3 linked regions of the Homo sapiens genome follow. The protein of the gene in region 2 purifies or fractionates together with the protein of the main gene of each other region. This does not show direct contact. Each region holds a gene or a part of one and is shown on either strand. Other genes may lie near its edges. The genes, in order: OGDH, KGD4 and OGDHL.

Region 1 (7,104 bases), on a different chromosome or scaffold from region 2:
CTTCTCCAACGTATCCCTCCACTCAACTTCTACTCACCCTTCAACACCCAGCTCAGGAGCCGCTCCCTGGGGACCCTGCACTCCCTTGGCCTCTGCCAGGGCTCACCTCTCTTCCAGAGCTCAGCACACCCCCTATGACCACCTGTTCAAACATCCGTCCTCCCCACCGGGCTGGGGCCTGCAGCCTATGTGATTGCTCCGCATGTGGTGCTCAGCAGTATGCAGGGGCCCAGTCGGGGAAGAGGACACACAGAACACGCAGTTCCCTCATGGCAGCAGTGAGGAGGAAGGGCGAGGCTCCCTGACACCATGTCCTGTCCACACTACCCCTGCAGGTGCCCACCTAGCTAACCCCAAGCAAGAGGCTCTCTGAGGAGCCCTTCCCTGCACCAACAGGGCAGGGCCAGGCCTCGTTTGAGCAAGGGAGGCCCTGCCACTGACCGGCTTCCGGAATGGCAGCAGGATCTGGCGTCGTAGCACGTGGAAGAAGTTGCCAGGAGTGGAGCAGTTGACAACAACCCAATTGCAGTCATATAGCTGATTGATGTCGAAGTTGGCTTCTTTAAGGTCCTGCAGCAGGGAAGGAAATGGCCAGAGGCCAGGACACAGCACTGAGTCTTCTGGGGCATGTGGGGGCCCTCAGGTGATCTAGTTTGGATATTTGTCCCTGCCCAAATCTCATGTTGAATTGTAATCTCCCACTGCTGGAGGTGGGGCCTGGTGGGAGGTGTTAGGATTAGAGCTTGGGCCATCCCCTTGGTGATGAGTGAGCTCTCACTCTGAGTTCACACGAGATCTGGTTGTTGAAAGTGTGTGGCCCCTCTCCCCCACTCTCTTACTCCTGCTCTGGCCATGTGACATGCCTGCTCTCCCACTTCATCTTCTGTCATGATTGTAAGCTTCCTGAGGCCTCCCCAGAAGCTGAGCAGATGCCAGCATCATGCTTCCTGTACAGCCTACAGAACTGTGAGCCAATTAAACTTTTCTTTATAAATTACCCAGTCTCAGGTTTTTCTTTATAGCAACACAAGAATGGCCTAACACACTGACTCCCCAGGAGACATAAGCTGACACTAACAAGTGAGTCCAGCAAGCTCCTTCGGCCAGCCTCATACCCTGGAGGAGAGCCTCAGTCCCACTCAATCCATACTATTTCTCTGAAAGCTATTGCCCAGCATGAAACAAATACCACTTTAAGAGACACAAGTTCTACCTAAAACCAATTTTCCTTAGACACTGACACCTAATCATTTTCTTTGAGTTTTTTTTTTTTTTTTTTTTTTTTGAGACAGGAGTCTCCCTCTGTCGCCTAGGCTGGAGTGCAGTGGCGCAATCTTGGCTCACTGCAACCTCCACCTCCCGGGTTCAAGCGATTCTCTGCCTCAGCCTCCTGAGTAGTTGGGACTACAGGTGCCCGCCACCACGCCTGAATAATTTTTGTATTTTTAGTAGAGACGGGGTTTCACTATATTGGCCAGGGTGGTCTCAAACTCCTGGCCTCGTGATCCACCTGCCTGGGCCTCCAAAGTGTTGAGCTTACAGGCGTGAGCCACTGCGCCTGGCCAGTTCTTTTTTTGTGAGACGGAGCTGCCCAGGCTGGAGTGCAGCGGCACAATCTTGGCTCACTGCAACCTCTGCTTCCCGGGTTTAAGCAATTCTCCTGCCTCAGCCTCAGACTAGCTGGGATTACAGGTGGGCGCCACCATGCCCAGCTAGTTTTTGTATTTTTAGTAAAGACAGGGTTTCACCATATTGGCCAGGCTGGTCTCAAACTCCTGACCTCATGATCCGCCTGCCTGGGCCTCCCAAAGTGCTGGGATTTCAGGCTTGAGCCACCACACCCAGCACAGTTCTTTTTTTTTTTTTTTTTAAGACAGGGTATTGCTCTGTCACCCAGGTTGGAGTGCAGTGGCACGATCTTGGCTCACTGCAGCCTTGACCTCCCAAGCTCAAGCAATCCTCCCACCTCAGCCTCCCAAGTAGCTGGGACTGCAGGCGTGCACCATCACGCCCAGCTACTTTTTAAAATTTTTGTAGAGACGGGGTCTCACCATGTTGCCCAGGCTGGTTCTTTGAGTTCTTAAAGTTTCACTGGAATCGCCCCAAAGTTCTCTCCTCCTCAGGGCTTCCAGACCTGAATCAGGGTCTGGAAGCATCCCGCAGGAGCCCTTGCTGAGGAGCTCACATGGCGTTTCTGTGCTTGCAGCAACAGCAGGAAGCCAATGGAGGCAGTCCCTGCACCTTCCTCTGTGCTCTGAGGAAGTCTCTCATCCCAGGGCGCCCAGAAGCATGGGGCCACACCTGTCCACTCACGTGAGCTCCCCAGGATGGAGAAAGGGACAGAGGCACGGTCTGCCACTTCAGGATGACCAGATAGATTGCTCTTCCCCAGGTTTCCCACCAGACACCCCGAGAATGGCTGGGCTGACAGGGCCTGTATTACTCACTGGCAGGACATCTGGGTCATCGTTGCACATCTGCAAGAACCGCTCTGGGCGGGCGGAGGAATGTTCTGGACCCTGGAACCACACACGCAAGTTACAGTTTAAGAGCTCTTGCGTACTGACATTTGCCGCATCTGCTGTTCCTCCTCAACCAACTAGCTCATTTCTGGTTATCTTTTTTCTTGATGGCAGGGTTCAGTTCCTTCCCCCTCCCACCAGCAAAGCACTTGGCTCATCATTTCCACACTTGGACGCCTGTGCATCTAGGGAGTCTGCACCAGCAGGGACGGGGCATGCTAGCCACATCCAGATGGGCTACTCTGGCTTTCTGAAGTGACATCCCATCTGAGATGGATGGGAAGCACCAGCAGAGTCCTTAGGAGGCTGGTGTGAGCCACTGGCTCTCGTGCCAGTCTTTGGGGTCAGGGTCCTACACAGGCCCTTCCCAAGTCCTAGGTCTGGCAGGGAAGGGCCAGAGGCTCACCATGCCCTCCATGCCATGGGGCAGCAGCAACACGATGCCATTCTGCCGCACCCACTTGGCTTGTCCCGGGCAGATGAACTGGTCGATGATACACTGGGCCGTGTTGTGGAAGTCACCAAATTGGGCTTCCCAGAGGACCAGGGCATTAGGACTGGCCATGGCGAAGCCCAGCTCAAAGCCTACAAGGGACAAAGGAAGGAGAAAACCATGTCCAGGACACCAGCCAGTAGGCCCAGCGGGGGTGGGTGGGTGACAGGCCCTGGTGGTGTGGCTCCAGGCACTCACCCAGCACGCCGTACTCAGACAGTGAGCTGTTGCACACAGTATAGGGGGCCTGATTGGGCCAGAGATGGTTCATGGGGATGCAGGTTCTCTTGTCCACATTCTGGTCATGGAGCACATGGTGGCGGTGGCTGAGACAGGACAACAGAGGTAATAATTAGGAGCTCTGACTTGACAAGCAAATACGCTGGGGACCCGCACGAAGCACCAGCAGATGCCATGCTCTGTGACCTGGACTTCTGGCCAGGCAGCTGCAGGGTCGGCCCCACCCAGGTCTTAACAGAAGCACCCATAGCAAATGAGGGACAGAGGTTTTCAGCCTGAGAGCAATGTGACTCTTCCGGTTTCTAACCGTCTTCCGGAAAAGAAACACCAGAACCCCTCCCTTTCCATCTTCTACTCTTTGGAGGGCAAACAAAACTGCCCAGAACGTTACCTGAATGTGCCCCGCTCCACGTCCTGGCCGCTCAGCCGAATGTGGATGCCCTCCTTCAGGAGCGAGCCAAACGCCATGTACTCCGCTAGAGCCCAGTCCACAGTCCGGTTCTTCACCATTTCCCCACGAGTCTTCAAGATCCGGCTCAGCCCTGCAGAGACACAGCTCTCACCAGCTGCTGCAGGCCCTGCCTGCACATGCCTGCCTTGCTTCTCAGCGTGCCCATGGCAAGAGCGGAGCCTTCTTTACTCGTAGTTTCTGGGTTCCTGACTTGCTGGAAAAGCTGTGACCTCAGTCTCTCCTTTACCACTGAGGAAGTGTAGGATCGTGCTAAGGGCAGGGAGTGGGAGAGGTGGCTCCATCCAACCACCCCAGAGGCCTTGAGCAGGGCAGGAAGGGAGTCTCTGTAGGACACATGATGGGTGGGGGCCAAGGTCACAGTCCTAGACAGTCGTCGCCCCTGGCCTGGGCCCCAACATTTCCACAGGTCAGCACAGAGCGTGTTACCTCCATGAATAGTAAAGTTTTCCACAGGCACAGAACTAGCCACATTCCCGATGTGTGTCAGAATATCCTCCGTCAGACCCGTGGAGGGGCAGGACATGCTCCTGGGCTGCCCGTCCAGGGTGAAGAAGCCTAGGAGAAGAAGAACAACTGAGGCATGACATCTGCTCTACTTTTCCAGGGACCACAAAATGGCAGACACGTGATTTTGGGGAGAAGCAGGGTGAGAGACAATGTAGCTCACACTGTGTTCCCCAGAAAACATTAATGCAGGGGTCTGGGTCCAGGGTCTGCAGGGGGCTTTGCTGAAATGGTGCATACAACTGTGCATTGTGGGTACAAAGTGGAAAGCATGAATTTTTTCTGGGAAGAGGATGCCTCGTTACATCAGATCCTCAAAGGAGCTTATTTGTGGCACTGTTTCTTCACTCACCAGGCCAGGGAGAGTCCAGCCAGTGCTTAATGTGCAAGATCTTCTCATCTTTAGATCTGGCAAAAGCTTCCTCACAGATCTTATCATACTTGGAAATTTCCTCCTGGAGGGTTGGGCACAACACAGCGTGACTGGCACAGGGCATGACTACTGCACACGCCCACCTGTACCCCCACACTTTCTGACAGCCACCACGCAAGCCCAACCATACCCCTGGCACAACTCCCGTGCATGCCCACCCATAGTCCCACACTTCGTGGATGCAAAACATCTCAGCCTCTGGGCCTGCTCCTTCTCAATAGGCATAACACCTTTCTAAGATTTTATTCTTTTCACTCCCAAAAGTTTCTTCCTCACATTTGCTGGGTAGAGATTCTGCTCGGAGTTTGAACCCCTAACCCTTCACCACTTTTTTTTTTTTTTTTTGAGACGGAGTCATGCTCTGTCACCAGGCTGGAGTGCAATGGCGCGATCTTGCCTCACTGCAACTTCCGCCTCCCGGGTTCAAGCGATTCTCCTGCCTCAGCCACCTGAGTAGCTGGGACTACAAGTGCGTGCCACCACGCCCAGCAAATTTTTGTATTTTTAGTAGACGGGGTTTCACCATGTTGGCCAGGATGGTCTCGATCTCTTGACCTCATGATCCACCTGCCTCAGTCTCCCAAAGTGCTGCAATTACAGGCATGAGCCACCACGCCCAGCCCACCACATTTTTTCTTAAGAACTGGTCCAGGCCAGGCGCAGTGGCTCATGCCTATAATCCCAGCACTTTGGGAGGCCAAGACAGGCAGATCACTTGAGGTCAGGAGTTCAAGACCAGCCTGGCCAACACGGGGAAACCCTGTTTCTACTAAAAATACAAAAATTAGCTAGGCGTGGTGGCTCGCACCTGTAATCCCAGGTACTTGGGACGCTGAGACATGAAAACTGCTTGAAGTAAGGAGGTGGAGGTTGCAGTGAGCTAAGATCATGCCACGGCACTCCAGCCTGGGTGACAGAGCTAGACTCCGTCTCAAAAAACAAAACAAAACAAAAAAAAAACTGGTTCACAAAGCTCTGTCTCCAGCATAGGCTACAGGCTATCAGGTTGTTCTGATCTGGGATCTGTCCTGTTCCCATGCTCAGATATAGCTCCTCACACCCACCCTCTCCCTCTCTAGGGCAGCTGCTTGGCCTTCCCACTCACAACCAACCAGCACTTACTATCCAGATTACAACAGGCCCCTTACCAAGCTGGATCCACCACCCACCTCTCAACCATGCACAATTTGTGAAATCTGAGAAAACCTACTGGGCTGCTACTACCTCAACCTGAAAACATCCCCTTCCCTTCCCCAAAACACTGTTTAAGGCCCACTTCCTTTATAAAGCATCTCAGTGGCCCAGATTCTCCAAAAAGTTATGCATTGAAATGCTGTAGTTGTAAATATTTCACATCCTCTCACGTGTATCCTCATAACTGGCAAAAGTGAGAACTGGCCCTGTGGCCCACCTTTTCTAGTCATCGCCAGCCCTGGAAAGGCGCACTGGGATAGAGCCGCAGGGACGTACCTCATACTCAGGCTGGTTGACCACACCCTGCGACACCAGCAGCTCAGCGTACTTCTGTAACACAGGCTTCTGCTTGCGGATCTGCTTGTACATGAGCGGCTGCGTGAACATGGGCTCATCCATCTCGTTGTGGCCGTTGCGCCGGTAACACACCTGCTCAGAGCAGTGAGAGGATGTCAGAGACAAGGGCTGGCCCCTTGGGAAGAAGTGCTGTTCAGGCACCTGCCCCATCTCTCCTAGGTGATGGCCACGTTCTTCATTCCTCATGCCTGCCCTGGAGTTTACCTTCTCTAGAATTAGGATTCTGTGTATCTCTCCTTCACACAGTAGAGCTGCTCTGTCAATGAGGAGTGGCCCTCCTCACCACCACAGCTCCTGCCTGGGAAGCATTCCTTGGTGCTTACAGGCCTGAACTATTTGGAGCTCAAAGGAACCAGCATGAGGCCTGGCAGTAGAGAGCCCTGAGGTGACTCATCTAGACAAGCTCCTCTCCTTGGGACACAGGGGTGCCGAGGGCAAGAGGGGTGGGTCAGATGCTCTGCCCAGGACGTGCTGTCCCCAGAGTCACTCACCAAATCGACAACCACGTCCTTGTGGAAGGTGCTCCTCCACTCGGCCGCCACTTTGCACACGTACATGACAGCCTCGGGGTCATCTGAGTTCACGTGGAAAATGGGGGCATTCACCACTCGGGCCACGTCAGTGGGGTAGGGGGAGGAGCGGGCCATCCGAGGGTCGGTGGTGAAGCCGATCTGCAAGGAACATGTAGCCTAGCAAGAGGGCACCTGGCACAGCCGGCACAGGGACCAGAGGGCGGGGCTGAGGCCGGGCATGGCATGCACTTGCCATCTGGCTACTCTGAGTACGTACCCCAAAATGGCTGTTTACACTTTTTCTTTTCCTTTGTTTTTTCCTATTCTGATAACAAAATCCATATATATTTAACATAGAGAATTTAAAAGACATAGTA
Region 2 (7,104 bases):
AGTCTTAAGTAAATGAATTACAAAAATGTAAAATAATGAAATTTCTAGTTAGTGGAATTCAACCCTTTAGGGGAACCTACACTACTTAAGCTTATGTCACATAACCCCTCATAGGCCAACACATGGTGGAGTTTACAGGTAATATCTTACAATAAGGAATAAGAAAGTCAGTAAATGTAAATGAGGGTAGTTTTCTCAATATCTTTACACTTGTTTAAACATCTTAATTCTTCAATAGTTACAATAAGTTAAAAATATACCTATAAAATGTGTTAAAATTGCCTGAATTAAAGATCAAGAGAGGCACAGAGGATCTGGTTTTTTTAAAAAAGGGCGGGAATCAGAGAAAAACAGAACCCTTTCAGAATCTTCTCCCATTAATTTTGAATAAATGCTAAGGATTAAGGCAATCCAAAAAATATTTACTGACTAGATGAATAGATAAATGAATGAATGAAAGAAAAGATGGTTGGTGAGGAGAGAAACAGGAATGGTTATTATTTTCCCAGTCTCTGCAAATGTAAGCATGGGAGAATCTTCTAAAGGATAGGAGAGAATAAAGGTAGGACAAAATTTTGCCCATATAAACTCACTAGAAATTCAGAGACATCTTCTGTTGAGTCACTACCTTTTAAAATAGGGGTAATAAAGGCCAGGTGAGTGGCTCATGCCTGTAATCCCAGCACTTTGGGAGGCGGAGGCAGGCAGATCACCTGAGATCAGGAGTCGAGACCAGCCTAGGCAACATGGTGAAACCCTGTCTCTACTAAAAATACAAAAATTAGCCAGGCGTGCTAGTGTATGCCTGTAATCCCAGCTACTAAGGATGCTGAAGCACGAGAATTGCTTTAACCCGGGAGGGGGAGACTGCAGTGTGCCAAGATAGCACCACTGCACTCCAGCCTGGGCGACAGAGCAAGACCCTGTCTCAAAAAATAAAATAAAATAGAGGTAATAATTTTTTTTTTTTTTGAGACAAAGTCTTGCCCTGTCACCCAGGCTGGAGTGCAGTGGCATGATCTTAGCTCACTGCAACCTCCGCCTCGTGGGTTCAAGCAATTCTATGCCTCAGCCTCCCGAGTAGCTGGGACTATAGGAGCCCGCCACCACGCCTGGCTAATTTTTTGTATTTTTTAGTAGAGACAGGGTTTCACCATGTTGGCCAGGCTGGTCTTGAACTCCTGACCTCAGGTGATCCGCGTGCCTCGGCCTCCCAAAGTGCTGGGATGACAGGCGTGAGCCACCGCTCCCAGCCATAAGTTAATTTCTACTTGCATGCTACATAAGGCACTATTTTGATCTAAGCTACAATAGTCTTAACTGATTTTAAAATGAGAAATATTGCCTATAATAAAATACTCATTTATAAATATTCATGTACACAATTTTAAAAGAAATTTAAATAAAATACAACTCACCATTGGGTTTAGGATTGTCTCTTCTGTCAGGAAACCTTATTAATGGAGTGTGTGGTTTGACTACCTAAATGAAAAGTAATATGCATGAAAAACAATCTCATTAACTAAAAGAAATGATCTACTAAACCTCATAAGTAGATACGTTTGTTAAAATTACTATTTTACAGCAACTTTAAATTATACTCTTCCCCAACCAGGAAAGCTGGTCTATGAATTATTAACTTGTCTACCCGGTAAACACAACTTTGTACTTTATATATCACAAGACTTCATTGTACTATCGAAGGTGTACTTCACTTCAAAGCAACCCAATGGAGGAGATGATGTAGAGTTTATGTTGCATGACTTATAGATTGGTAAGAATGAAAGCTGGCTGGGTGCAGTGGCTTATGCCTGTAATCCCAACATTTTGGGAGGCCCAGACAGGCAGATTGCGTGAGTGCAGGAGTTTGAGACCAGCCTGGGCAACATGGTGAAACCCCGTCTCTACCAAAAATTAAAACAAAAACAAAAAGAAAAACAAGGCCCAGTGTGATGGCTCACGCCTATAATCCCAACACTTTGGGAGGCCGAGGCGGACGGATCACGAGGTCAGGAGTTCAAGACCAGCCTGGCCAACATGGTGAAACCCCATCTCTACTAAAAATACAAAAATTAGTTGGGCATGGTGATGCGTGCCTGTAATCCTAGCTACTTGGGAGGCTGAGGCAGGAGAACTGCTTGAACCAACCGGGACTCCGGAGGCAGAGGTTGCAGTGAGCTGAGATCGTGCCACTGCACTCTAGCCTGGGCTACAGAGTGAGACTCCATCTTAAAAAAAAAAAAAAAAAAAAAGGTGGCTGAGCATGGTGGCTCACACCTGTAATCCCAGCACTTTGGAAGGCTGAGGCAGGTGGATCACGAGGTCAGGAGTTCGAGAGCAGCCTGACCAACAGGGTGAAACCTCGTATCTACTAAAAATACAAAAATTAGCAGGGCATGGTGGTAGTGCACACCTGTAATCCCAGCTACTCAGGAGGCTGAGGCAGGAGAATCGCTTGAACGCAGGAGGCAGAGGTTGCAGTGAGCAGAGATAGTGCCACCATACTTCAGTCTGACCACAGAGCGAGACTCCGTCTCAAAAAAAAAAAAAAAAAAAATGTGGTGCTATGTGCCTGTAGTTCCAGCTACTTGGGAGGCTGAGGTGGGAGGATCACTTGAACCAAGGAGGCAGAGGTTGCAGTGAGCTCAGATCTTGCCACTGCACTCCAGCCTGGGCAACAGAGTGAGACCCCATCTCAAAGAAAAAACACTGGAAATTTACTGCCTTTTTTTTTTTTTTCTTTTTTCAGACGGAGTCTCACTCTGTCGCCCAGGCTGGAGTGCAGCGGCACGATCTCAGCTCACTGGAACCTCCACCTCCTGTGTTCAAGCGATTCTCCTGCCCCAGCCTCCCGAGTAGCTGGGACTATAGGCACGTGCCACCACGCCCGGCTAGTTTTTTTCACTTTTAGTAGAGACGGGGTTTCACCGTGTTAGCCAAGGTGGTCTCAATCTCCTGACCTCATGATCCGCCCACCTTGGCCTCCTAAAGTGCTGGGATTACAGGTGTGAGCCACCGCACCCGGCAGAAATTTACTGACTTTTTAAATTTTTTGTTGAGACAGCGTCTGGCTTGTTGCCCAGGATGGAGTGCACTGGCATGATGTGGCCTTACCGCAACCTCCGCCTCCTGCTCCTAGGTACAAGCAATCTTCTTGCCTTAGCCTCCCAAAGTTCTAGGATTTCAGGCATGAACCACTGCACCTGGCCTCCTGACTTGTTTTGAGTGTTATTTCCCTACTATATTAATACCTAACAGGGAAGAAAAAACAATCATTTTGAAAATTAGAAAATTAAAGAATACTTTTTTTGACTACAAAAGTAACACAAATTCTGTGTAAAACATTTGGAAGAACACAGAAGAGCACAAAGAAGAAAACACTATAATCCCAAGACCCACGTAAAACAAATAAAAGACTTTTTTTTTTTTTGAGATGGAGTCTCCTCTGTCACCCAGGCTGGAATGTAGTGGCGTAATCTCTGTTCACTGCAACCTCCGCCTCCCAGGTTCAAGCAATTCTCCTGCCTCAGCCTCCTGAGTAGCCAGGATTACAGGCCTGCGCCACCACACCCCGCTAATTTTTGTATTTTTAGTAGATATGGAGTTTCCCCATTTTACCCAGGCTGGTCTTGAACTCCTGACCTCAAATGATCCACCTGCTTCGGCTTCCCAAAGTGCTGGGATTACAGGCATGGGCCACCATGCCCGGCCCAAATTAAAACATTTGATAGCACTTTATTTTAGTCTTTTTCCTATACCCATAGGAATACTTTTTTTTTTTTTTTTTTAGACAGAGTCTTGCTGTGTCACTCAGACTGGAGTACAGTGCCGCAATCATGGCTCACTGCAACCTCCGCCTCAAGGGTTCAAGTGATTCTCCTGCCTCCGCCTCCCAAGTAGCTGGGATTACAGGTGCCCGCCACCACACCCGGCTAATTTTTATATTTTTAGTAGAGACAGGGTTTCACCATGTTGGCCAGGCTGGTTTCGAACGGCCTCCCAAAGTGCTGGGATTACAGGCGTGAGCCACCATGCCTGGCCTGGAATACATATTTTTGGAATACTGTTTTTGGAACAGATGTTTGAAAAGTATTAACATTTTTGTCCGTAAAATTCCAGATAGTGGTACAGAGGACCTTAAATGGACCTGTCAATATGAAATCTTCTGAATATACAATGCTAAGAATCTAATGAACAAAGTACTATTTTCAACTAATCTATAAATTGCTATGTAACGAATAAGACTGAGGTGGGTTTATCTGCAATATATTTATATATTTGTAGTACATATTATGCATTTTATGTGGGCACAGAAGCAAATAGGTATGGGATTGGCCTAAAAATTCACCACTGTAATTCTGTGGCTGTGAGAAAATGCTGGAATGTGTTCTCTCCCTCACCATAAAATCATGCTCAAGTCTTCCATGCTAAAAAACTTCTCGGCCGGGCATGGTGGCTCACACCTGTAATGCCAGCACTTTGAGAGGCCGAGGTGGGTGGATCATGAGGTCAGGAGATCGAGACCATTCTGGCTAACACGGAGAAACCCCGTCTCTACTAAAAATACAAAAAAAGTAGCCAGGCGTGGTGGCACACACCTGTAGTCCCAGGTACTCGGGAGGCTGAGGCAGGAGAATCGCTTGAACCTGGGAGGCAGAGGTTGCAGTGAGCCGAGATTGTGCCACTGCACTCCAGCCTAGGTGAAAGAGCAAGACTTTGTCTCAAAAAAAAAAAAAAAAAAAAAAGCTGCGCACCGTGACTCACGCCTGTCATCCCAGCACTTTGAGAGGCCAAGGCGGGTGGATCATGAGGTCACGAATTCAAGACCAGCCTGGCCAAGACGGTGAAACCCTGTCTCTACTAAAAAAATAAAAAAATTAGCCGGGCGTGGTGGTGGGCGCCTGTAATCCCAGCTACTCGGGAGGCTAAGGCAGAAAATTGCTTGAACCCTGGAGTGGAAGTCCGAGATCGAGCCACTGCACTCCAGCCTGAGTGACAGAGAGAGGCTCTGTCTCAAAAAAAAAAACTTCTCTATTAACTGTTTCTTCACTTTCATAGCCAAGCTTCTTAAGAGAATGTTCTATCTATCCTATCATCACTCCCCTATTTAGAAGTTTGAAAACTGGCTGAGGTCAGTGGCTCATGCCTGTAATCCCAGCACTTTGGGAAGACGGCTTGAGCCCAGGAGTTTGAGACCAGCCTGAGCAAGAAGATGAGACTCCCTCTCTACAACTTAAAAGAAGAAAAAAAAGAAGTTTGAAAAATGTTCCACAGCTTTCAGGATAAAGTTCAAACTCTTCTTTGGCACTCACAACACCCATTGTGATCTGGCCTCTCCCTACTTTGCCAGCCTTTCTCCCCTACTGTCTTATGTACCCATTGCTCCAAGTATTCTGAAGTATTTTTCCTTTCCCCAATTCATCCTATTTATCCTCATTCCATCTACAGCTTACGTCCTCTGCCATGAAATCTCCCTCCTATCCCATTCCACTTCCATGCCTATCCTTCTGACTGCTTATCCTTTACAACAGCTCAAATGTCACTCTTCTCTAAGAACCTTTCCCAAATTCCAAAGTCTGAGTTAAAAACTCTCCTTATGTTTTCAGAGGACAGATAAGTTAGCCAATGATTATAGAAGAGCACTAAGCTCCTGGACAGTCAGAGACAGAAAACTAAGCACTTCTGCAGTAGCATTCCTGTTACATGGTAAATGCCCAAGTAACAGTTGCCAAATACGTGAATAAACCATTTGTAAGTTAGGTCTAACTGTATAGGCATGTAAATATGTATTATATACTTATACAAATGTACTTTTAATAGATATGGGGTTTTGCCATGTTGGCCAGGCTGGTCTCGAACTCCTGACCTCAGGTGATCTGCCCGCCTTGGTCTCCCAAAGTGCTGGGATTACAGGCATGAGTCACCGTGCCCAGCCTTATGTTTTCTATAATAGTCTTTTATCAGATATGTCTTTTGAAAGTATTTTCTCCCAATATGTGGCTTGCCTTTTTTTGACAGTGTCTCACAGAGCAGAATTTTTTATTTTAATGAAGTCCAGCTTATCAATTAATTTTTCATGGATCATGCCTTTGGTGTTATATCTAAAAAGTCATTCCTAAACCTAAGGTTATTTTTATTTTCTCCTATGTTATATTCTAAGGGTTTTATAGTTTTGCATTTTGCATTTAGGTCTAGGATCCATTTTGAGTTAATGTTTGTGAAGAACGTGAGGTCTGTGTCTAGATGGATATCCAATTTTTTCAGCACCATGTTGAAAAGACTATCTTTTCTCCATTGTATTCCCTTTGCTCGTTTTGTCAAAGATCAGTTGACTATCTCTTTATTTTTACCTTTCCAAATCTTAGTTTTAGCTATGCCTCTTATAAATAGCATAGCACTGGATTTTCATTTGTTAGCCAGTCTGAAAATGTTTTACTTTATTATTTATTTTTTGAGACCAGGTCTTGCTCTGTTACACAGGCTGGGGTGCAGTGGAGTGATCGTGGTTCACTGCAGCGTCAAACTCCTGGGCTCAAGTGATCTTTCCACCTCAGCCTCCTAAGTAGCTAGGACTACAGGTACACACCCACACACTACCCCTCCTGCCTGGCTAATTTTTTTTTTTTTTTTTAGTATTTATTGATCATTCTTGGGTGTTTCTCGGAGAGGGGGATGTGGCAGGGTCATAGGATAATAGTGGAGAGAAGGTCAGCAGATAAACACGTGAACAAAAAGGTCTCTGGTTTTCCTAGGCAGAGGTCCCTGCGGCCTTCCGCAGTGTTTACGTCCCTGGGTACTTGAGATTAGGGAGTGGTGATGACTCTTAACGAGCATGCTGCCTTCAAGCATCTGTTTAACAAAGCACATCTTGCACCGCCCTTAATCCATTTAACCCTGAGTGGACACAGCACGTTTCAGAGAGCACGGGGTTGGGGGTAAGGTTATAGATTAACAGCATCCCAAGGCAGAAGAATTTTTCTTAGTACAGAACAAAATGGAGTCTCCTGTGTCTACTTCTTTCTACACAGACACAGTAACAATCTGATCTCTCTTTCTTTTCCCCACATTTCCCCCTTTTCTTTTCGACAAAACCGCCATCGTCAT
Region 3 (7,935 bases), on a different chromosome or scaffold from region 2:
GGCAGCCCCAGGCCCAGCCCAGCGCCACTCAAGACAGCTAACAGTCCAGGCAGGTACAGACTGGAAGCCCACCCAGACCACGGGGAACCAGGCCCTGCAGCTCATCTCACCTCACTCTGTCACCTGTGCCTTCCCAGGGAAAATATCTAAATCTTGGGCTTTCAGTGATGGGGGCTTTCTCTATTCCGCAGACGGTAAGAGTTCTAAGAGCCCTCTGCCAATCCTGGAGAACCCCCCAGATATCCCTATCCAGGCAGGTTAGGGGTTGATAGGGCCTACTGAGGTCCCAGATCACCCCATACCCCTGCCACCTCATCCTACACATGATGTGTAAAGTGGGACCTCTGTTCCCCACCCTACAACTGTGAGCAGAACCCCTTCCTCTGCTCCAGCACAGCCACTGCCATAGAGCAGCTCCCCATGAATACCAGCTAATGCCCTCCTGCCCAGACCGCCCAGCTTGTAAGCTGGGTGCAAGGACCACCCCACAAGGGGTCGCCCAGGCGGGAGGAGTCCCCTACCCCTGGACAGCTCAGGCCCCAGAAAATGTGCATTCTGGGGTATAACTGGCTTCCAAGTACTGCCCAGGCCAGGCCCTGAGCCAACGCTCCTGGTCAGGTGTGCTCAGCCAACACCTGTTGCACCCTTCTGCCTCACCCCTGCCATCAGCTCAACCATGTCACCAGAAACTCACTGGCTGGACTTTCCACAAAAGGTCAGGCCCCACCAGAGGGCAGGGCACAGCCCTCCTTCTAACTCACATGAGCCAGAGGAAAGGGGTGATGTCACCTCAATGGAGGGAGGACAGGCTCCTGGGGCAACCAGCAGCAAGCCTGAACAGAGAAAATTTTCAAAACAAAAAAGATTCCACTGCAGGGAGGAGGGAGGTGAGCTTGGGAGCCTCTGAGTGCCCCCAAGTTTCCCTCCCCAATGCTCAGCCCCTGAGGCTTCGGGTCATGTGGCCCAGCCCACGAGCCAGTGATGCCAAGCCCTAGAGCGCGGGGCACTTGGGGCCGGCTCCTCTGGGAGCAGCACCTCTCCAAGTGCCAGGCATGAGCTCTGGGGTCAGGCAGCCAGGGTCCCAACTCCTGTTCCACCTCTGACTATCCTAGAGGCCTGGGCAAAGAGAAGGTCGTGCCAGCCCAGCTGGCCACTAGGCCCAGGAGCTCCTGAAGCATCAGGGAGAATCTTCTAGAGCATCAAAAAGAATCCACAACCCAGGACGCTTTATCATCCCCAGTCTATGGCAAAGGAAACTAGATATCAAGACCATCGTCATGGGAATAAACATAATAGGCACCGTCAGGAGCACTGATTCTAGGACAGATACTGTGCTCATTTAATCCTCCCAACATCCCATGGGGTGGGCACTCATATCAGTTCCACTTTATAAACAGAGAAACTGAGGTGCAAGAGGCTAAGCTGGCTAATCTGGTGAGTGACAGGGCTGTGTGGGGTTCCAGCGACTGTGCCCTGATCACTGCAGTCAATATGTAAGCCAGATTTCTCTTAGCGATGCAGTTCCCATCAGCTGAGCCAGAGCTGCTCCCTCTGCCAGCGCCACTCCCACCCCCACAGGGGAATGGGGCAGTTTGGGCCAGATAGGGACAAAGTCTGGCTGTGTCCAGAATGGCCCGGTGCAGGAACACTGTTTTATAAACACTAAACAGTCTGGGTTGGCCACTGGGCACTGTTGTGACCTTGACCCAGCCTGGCAGGAGGGCAGCCTGCCACCCACCCCCACCTGCATCCCAGCAGGGCATGAGGGCTCAGTATCTAGAGCCAGAGCCCAAGCCAGCCCTACTAGTTCCTGCCCATACAGTCAAGGACAGCAACAAGGAGTGAGAGTCAGGTGCCCTGTGCAACCCCCTGCCCAGTCCAGACTCCAGCAGAGTTGCCCTGGGTATCTCTTGGGGGTCTCTTCTCTGAGGACAAGGTCACATAGCATCCCCAACCCAACCTCAGAACCTCAACCCAACCCCAGAAAACTGCCGACACCATGGCCACTAAGACTCCCACACACACAACCCTGTCTGGGGTGCCCTAGTGAGGACTACTCCCTAATGCACCCATTGCAGAGATCAGTAAACAGAGGCCGGGAAGGGTTCTCCCCAGAGGGCCCTCCAAGCTGGGCAGCAGCAGAGCCTGGATTCTCTCAGCAGCAGGTCTACTCTGACCCCACTTTCTGAGAAGCAGATGAGCTTTTGCTCAGCAACAAACCGCAATTCTATTTAGTTGGGGCCTGTTCCAAGACACTGGGGAGGGGCTGCTAGGGCCTGCTTGAGCCAGGTGGCCGAGGGGCGTCAAAGGGTCTCTCCGGTTCGGCGAATGCGTACTGCAGCCTGCTGTGGCCTCGGGATTACCCCGTCCCCCTCCCACATCTCCCGGGGGGCGGAAGAAGCGCATCCCATGCAAGCAGCGACCTCAGGCCATGCCGCCCTCTCTCAGGCCTCAGTTTTCTCATCTGTAATCGGAGACCGCGGTTAAAACCGTCTATTAGGCTCCTTGGTAGTCCGAAGCTGCCTATGGGTCCCGCCAGGTGCACAGCGCTGACCCTCCCCATCCCCCGCACAGCCCTCGCAGCTCCGGGCCCTCCCCTGGCCACGGAAGGCGCGGGGCAGTCTGAAGTCCTCGGGCTGGAGAAACCCACCGCGAGCACCCGCTCCTCTGCGCAGGACCCTGGACTAGCCGGGTGGTACGCGCGCGATGGGCTGGGGGTCCCGGGGGAGGCCACGGCCAGCCAAGGTCAGAGCCAAGGTCACAGTCTGTTCCTCCTCCCCCTCCCCCCGGCGGGGCCAGACTCAGGGCTGCGGGCAGCGGCGCCCCAGGACCCAGGAGAGAGGAGCTGTGGGGCCGGTCCCCAGGACGGCAGGAGAAGCAGCGGCGCAGGGACCGGGAGGGGGCGGGCCGCCGCGCTCACCGGGCGGGCGGGCCGGGTCCGCGCTGCAGCGAGGTCCGGAGGCTGCAGGTCAGGGGGCTGCGCGGAAGGGGTGCGCGCGCGCCGTGCCAATTACCTGGGTCACGTGACGCAGCCGCCCACGGGCGCGCGCCCCTGAGACTCCGCGCGTCGTGACGTCTCCATGGATGCCCCGCCCCGCTCCTGGCGCTGTCCACGGTGCTGGCGGCCCAGGCCCGAGGTCGCCCACGGCCGAAGGGGGGACTCCTCTCTGAGACCGCAGAACGGGGCTGAGGCCCTGAACCCCGTGTGCTCGTCCTAAAACTAGGACGAATGTACCAGACGACAAGCAGCCTTTGTGTGTAGGAGAGGATAGGTTTTGTTTTGTCGTCTGTAAAATGGGAATGCTATGAAAAGTTCCACTATCTTAGGGATGTTTTGAAAAAAAGATGAGATAATGCGTGAAAAGTGCTTACCCCAAATCTGATACACATTTTACCCATTCATCCTCCCACTGATGGTGACCCAGGCTGTCCTCACCACCCCGTGGCCACAAACAAGGCTGCAATGAACTTCTTCATACACATTCCCTTAGGATCCTGCGTGGAACTTTCTCTGGGATAGAGATCAACTTTCTAATTATTATCAGAATAGCAGATGCAATGTCCTGTTATTGTTTTAATCTGCATTTCTCTGGTTATCAACCATTTGCATCTCCCGTTGTTTGTTAGTTTGGGGTTTTCTGTTGTATTTTTTTCAGCTTTCTGTTGGGTTTTGTTCTCATTTAAATGCAGGGATTTCTTGTATAGGAACATAACATACCTGTGGTTCAAGTTGCCATCAAATCTCTCCTGGATTATCGCAGCAGCCTCCTAACTGGCTTCTCTGCTTCTACACTTACACTCTTGAATTTTAATCTCAAAACTACAGTATGCACTTCACAAGAATATATTCAAGTACATATCAAACCAATTAATATGGTTGCTTGTCGAGGGAGGAGGATGGGGAATGTGGATATGAGGTAATTAATCAATTACCCAGATCACTGCTGACAGAGTGCCACGAAGAAAGGAATACAACTAACTTCTGCACCTGAAGTCTCCCAAAAGTTCTTTATTTGGAGACAGTTAGGGATACATGTGGTCAAGAATCTTCAGCACTTAACACAGCACTATCATGGTATTTTTCAGTAAATATTTGTTGAATGAATGACTGAGTGAGTAAATGGACACTTGACTTGGATCCTGAAGGATGAGTAAGATTTTATCTGGTGCAGAAGGGCAGGGTTCATTGGGAATTCTTTGGACACAAGCACCAAAAATGACCTGGCTAGCTTCAGCCGAAAACGAGTTGATATGAAGGTTGTATATAAGGCAACTCACAGAATCAGAGGAAAGCTGAAAATTTACTTCAGGAAGCAGGGCTGAGCCATAGAGGAACTGTCTCTTCAAGGCTCTTCTGTTTTTCAAAATTCAAATTCCGGGTGAGAGGCAGTAATGTACTTGCAGTAGAGACGGAGTAAGGTGGCCAGATTTGAGAGACTTACGGGGATCAGCTCCACGGGGTTTAGTGGTTGACCAGATATGAGGGTGGAGACATAGATAACTCACAGGTGTCTGGCTTTAGTGACTTGGGCACAGTGGAACTTCTCAGTGAGCTAGGGAAAAGGAGAAGCTGCAGTTTGGGGTAATAGTGGAAAAGTTTACAAGTCAGAGTCACCGATTAAGAAAGATGGAAAGCCTGACACAGAGCAGCAGGCAGGAACAAGGCTCTTGCAAATCAAAAGGCTTCAGAGCCTTTCAGCCTTCCAGCCTAATTGGTGTTCTGCTAATTGCATTGATTAAAGCAAACATTTGGGGCAATCAACGCTCCCATGAGGGTGGCTGCCATTCTCAGAAGCCTGAGAGGATTAGTGGCAGTGGCTGTAGGCTTTGCAGAGATCTTCAGAAACAGACACCTTTCTTTTTTTCCCATGCCTGTGGCGTGTGTGTGTGTGTGTGTGTGTGTGTGTGTGTGTGTGTGTCAGAACATGGAAGTTTTTATTTATTCTAGTTGTACAGAACTTAAATGATACAGAAGGATACAGAACAAAATGTGAAAAGCCCCCTTCCACCTGCCCCAACCTCACCTCTTTTTTTTCCTTCCAGAGATAACTACTGGCCAGTTTGGCAAACATTTTTACAAAATTGTTTATGTATTTATATCCATATGCTTCTACAAACATATACATAAAAATATGAAATGGATCACACTAGAATATAGTTCCACGACTTGTTTCTTTTTTTCCCTTGTCTTGAAGATTTTTATTTAAACTCAGTATGTGTAGGACCACCTCATTCTTTTTCATGGGTATGTTGTATTCATTATAGGGATGTATGGTGACTGTATGTCACTTCTCTCCCATTGAATGAACATTTCCATTTCTTTTGACATTTACAGAAAAAAAAGGAGAAAAGAGTCCTCCTATATATTCCCTTTAGTACATGCAAAACTACTATGGTAACATTGATTTCTCTTTCTTTCTTTCTTTCTTTCTTTTTTTCTTTTTTTTTTTTTTTTTCAAGATGGAGTCTTGCTCTGTCACCAAGGCTAGAGTGCAGTGGCTGGATCTCAGCTCACTGCAACCTCCACCTCCCAGGTTCAAGCAATTCTTCTGCCTCAGCCTCCTGAGTAGCTGGGATTACAGGCTCCCACCACCATGCCTCGCTAATTTTTTTATTTTTAGTAGAGATGGAGTTTCATCATGTTGGCCAGGCTGGTCTTGAACTCCTGACCTCATCATCCCCCACCTTGGCCTCCCAAGTGCTGGGATTATGGGAGTGAGCCACCATGCCCAGCCTGATTTCTAAATTAAGTTTAACAATGGGTCAAAAGATATATATTCTTTGCAGTTTAATATGTATAATAAATATCTAGTAAGACCGTTCCACTGAATACTTCCTCATTAGTGTTTTTGAGTTCCCACTCCCTTACATCCTTGCCAAGATTTATTATCAGTTTTCTTTCATTTATGCCAGTCTGATAGGTGAAAAATCACATTTTGTTTTAGTTAGCATAAAACTGATAAGCGAGTTTGAAAATCTCTCTTTTTTTGAGGTGGAGTCTCGCTCTGTCACCTAGGCTGGAATGCGATGGCGTGATCTTGGCTCACTGCAAACTCTGCCTCCTGGATTCAAGCTATTCTCCTGCCTCAGCTTTCCAAGTAGCTGGGACTATAGGCACACACCACCATGCCCAGCTAATTTTTGTATTTTTAGTAAAGACAGGGTTTCATCATGTTGACTAGGCTGGTCTTGAACTCCTGACCTCAAGTGATCTGCCCGCCTTGGCCTCCCAAAGTGCTGGGATTATAGGCATGAACCACCGCACCCGGCCTGAAAATCTTTTTATATGTTTTTATATGTTTCTTTTTATATGTTTCTTATTTTGTATTCTTTTTCTACAAATTGCCTATTGATAGACTTTGCTCATTTTTCTATCAGGTTGTTTATATTTTGCTTGAATTCACATAAACTCTGTACATATTCTGAATAAGAATATTTTGTAGGTTGTAAATGTTGCAACATTTCTCCCAGTCTGTCACTTGTCTTAACTTTGTTTATAGATGCTTTGGCCACATTTTCATAGCTTTGATTACAGTCTATTATTATAATTTTTCTTTTATAGTCTTACTTATTGTTGTTAATCTCTTACTAGGCCTAATTTATAAATTAAACTTTATCATAGGTATGGGCCAGGCATGGTGGCTCACACCTGTAATCCCAGCACTTTGGGAGGCCAAAGCAAGTGGATCACCTGAGGTCAGGAGTTTGAGACAAGCCTGGCCAACATAGTGAAACCCCATCTCTACTAAATATACAAAAAATTAGCCGGGTGTGGTGATGGTTGCCTACAATCCCAGTTACTCGGGAGGCTGAGGCAGGAGAATCACTTGAACCCAGGAGGTGGAGGTTGCAGTGAGCTGAAAGAGTGCCACTGCATTTCAGCCTGGGCAACAGAGTGAGACTCCATCTCAAAAAAAAAAAAAAGAAAAAGAAAAAGAAAAAAAAATTATCATAGGTATGTATAGGAAAAAACAGGGTATATATAGGGTTTGATACTATGTGAGGATTTGGGCATCCATGGGGGCCTTGGAACGTATCTCCCCAGGATAAGCACAAACTACTATATAAAACATTTCTATCACCACAAGGATCCCTCAAAATGCCCTTCTATAGCCACACCTATTTCCCTCCCACATCACCTCCTCCTTAACCCCTCCAAACCATTAATCAGTTCTCCATCTCTATAATTTTGCATTCAATAATGTTATATGTAAGTGGCATTATAGGGTAGGTAGGCTTTTAGGATTAGCTTTTTTTCATTCAGTATAGTTCTTCGGAGATTCATGCAGGTTGTTGTGTGAATCAGTCATTTGTCTCTTTTTATTGCTGAGTAGTATTCCATGGTATGGATGTACCACAGTTTGTTTAACCATTCACTCATAAAGGGCATCTGGATTGTGCTCAGATTTTGGCTATTACAAATAAACCTGCTATGGACATTTATGTTCAGATTTTTGTGTGAACATAAGTCTTCATTTCTCTGGGGTAAATGCCTTGGAGTGCAATTGCTGGGTCGTATGGTAGTTGCATGTTTCATTTTTTATAAACCTTCTGCTCTTTTCTAGAGTAGATGTGCCACTTCACAGTCCCATCAACAATGTGTAGGTGATACAGTTTCTCTGCATCCTCACCGGCATTTGGTGCTGTGTGTTACCCATCCTGATAGGTATGTCATGATATCTTATTGCGGTTTTAATTTGCATTTCCCTGATGGCTAATGAGCATCTTTTCACGTGTGTGTTTGTAATCTGTATATCCTCTTTGGAGAAATGTCTCTTTATGTCCTTTAGACCTTTTCTAATTGGATCACTCTTTTTTTTTCTTACTGTTGAGTTTGAGAGCTCTTTGCATAGTCTAGATGCTAGACTTTGTCAGATACGTGATTTGCAAATATTTTCTCTCGGCCTGTAGCTTGTCTGTTCATCCTCTTAGTAG

The links.
Region 1: the proteins of KGD4 (region 2) and OGDH purify together in Homo sapiens (co-immunoprecipitation; 2 studies listed by BioGRID and IntAct, with this or other methods). This does not show direct contact.
Region 3: the proteins of KGD4 (region 2) and OGDHL purify together in Homo sapiens (co-immunoprecipitation; 2 studies listed by BioGRID and IntAct, with this or other methods). This does not show direct contact.

Annotation. Positions count from the first base shown.
Region 1 is NC_000007.14:44,693,607-44,700,710, reverse strand, and holds part of OGDH (2-oxoglutarate dehydrogenase complex component E1 isoform 1 precursor), read right to left. Parts: intron 6,887-7,104; coding exon 6,707-6,886; intron 6,288-6,706; coding exon 6,135-6,287; intron 4,687-6,134; coding exon 4,584-4,686; intron 4,283-4,583; coding exon 4,154-4,282; intron 3,798-4,153; coding exon 3,647-3,797; intron 3,342-3,646; coding exon 3,214-3,341; intron 3,108-3,213; coding exon 2,929-3,107; intron 2,520-2,928; coding exon 2,448-2,519; intron 571-2,447; coding exon 442-570; intron 1-441. UniProt on the Homo sapiens protein: 2-oxoglutarate dehydrogenase (E1o) component of the 2-oxoglutarate dehydrogenase complex (OGDHC). Participates in the first step, rate limiting for the overall conversion of 2-oxoglutarate to succinyl-CoA and CO(2) catalyzed by the whole OGDHC.
Region 2 is NC_000005.10:69,220,716-69,227,819, reverse strand, and holds part of KGD4 (alpha-ketoglutarate dehydrogenase component 4), read right to left. Parts: intron 1,483-7,104; coding exon 1,419-1,482; intron 1-1,418. UniProt on the Homo sapiens protein: Molecular adapter that is necessary to form a stable 2-oxoglutarate dehydrogenase enzyme complex (OGDHC). Enables the specific recruitment of E3 subunit to E2 subunit in the 2-oxoglutarate dehydrogenase complex (OGDHC).
Region 3 is NC_000010.11:49,759,319-49,767,253, forward strand, and holds the start of OGDHL (2-oxoglutarate dehydrogenase-like, mitochondrial), read right to left. Parts: upstream 3,006-7,935; 5' UTR 2,921-3,005; intron 2,682-2,920; exon of another isoform or gene 2,651-2,681; intron 1-2,650.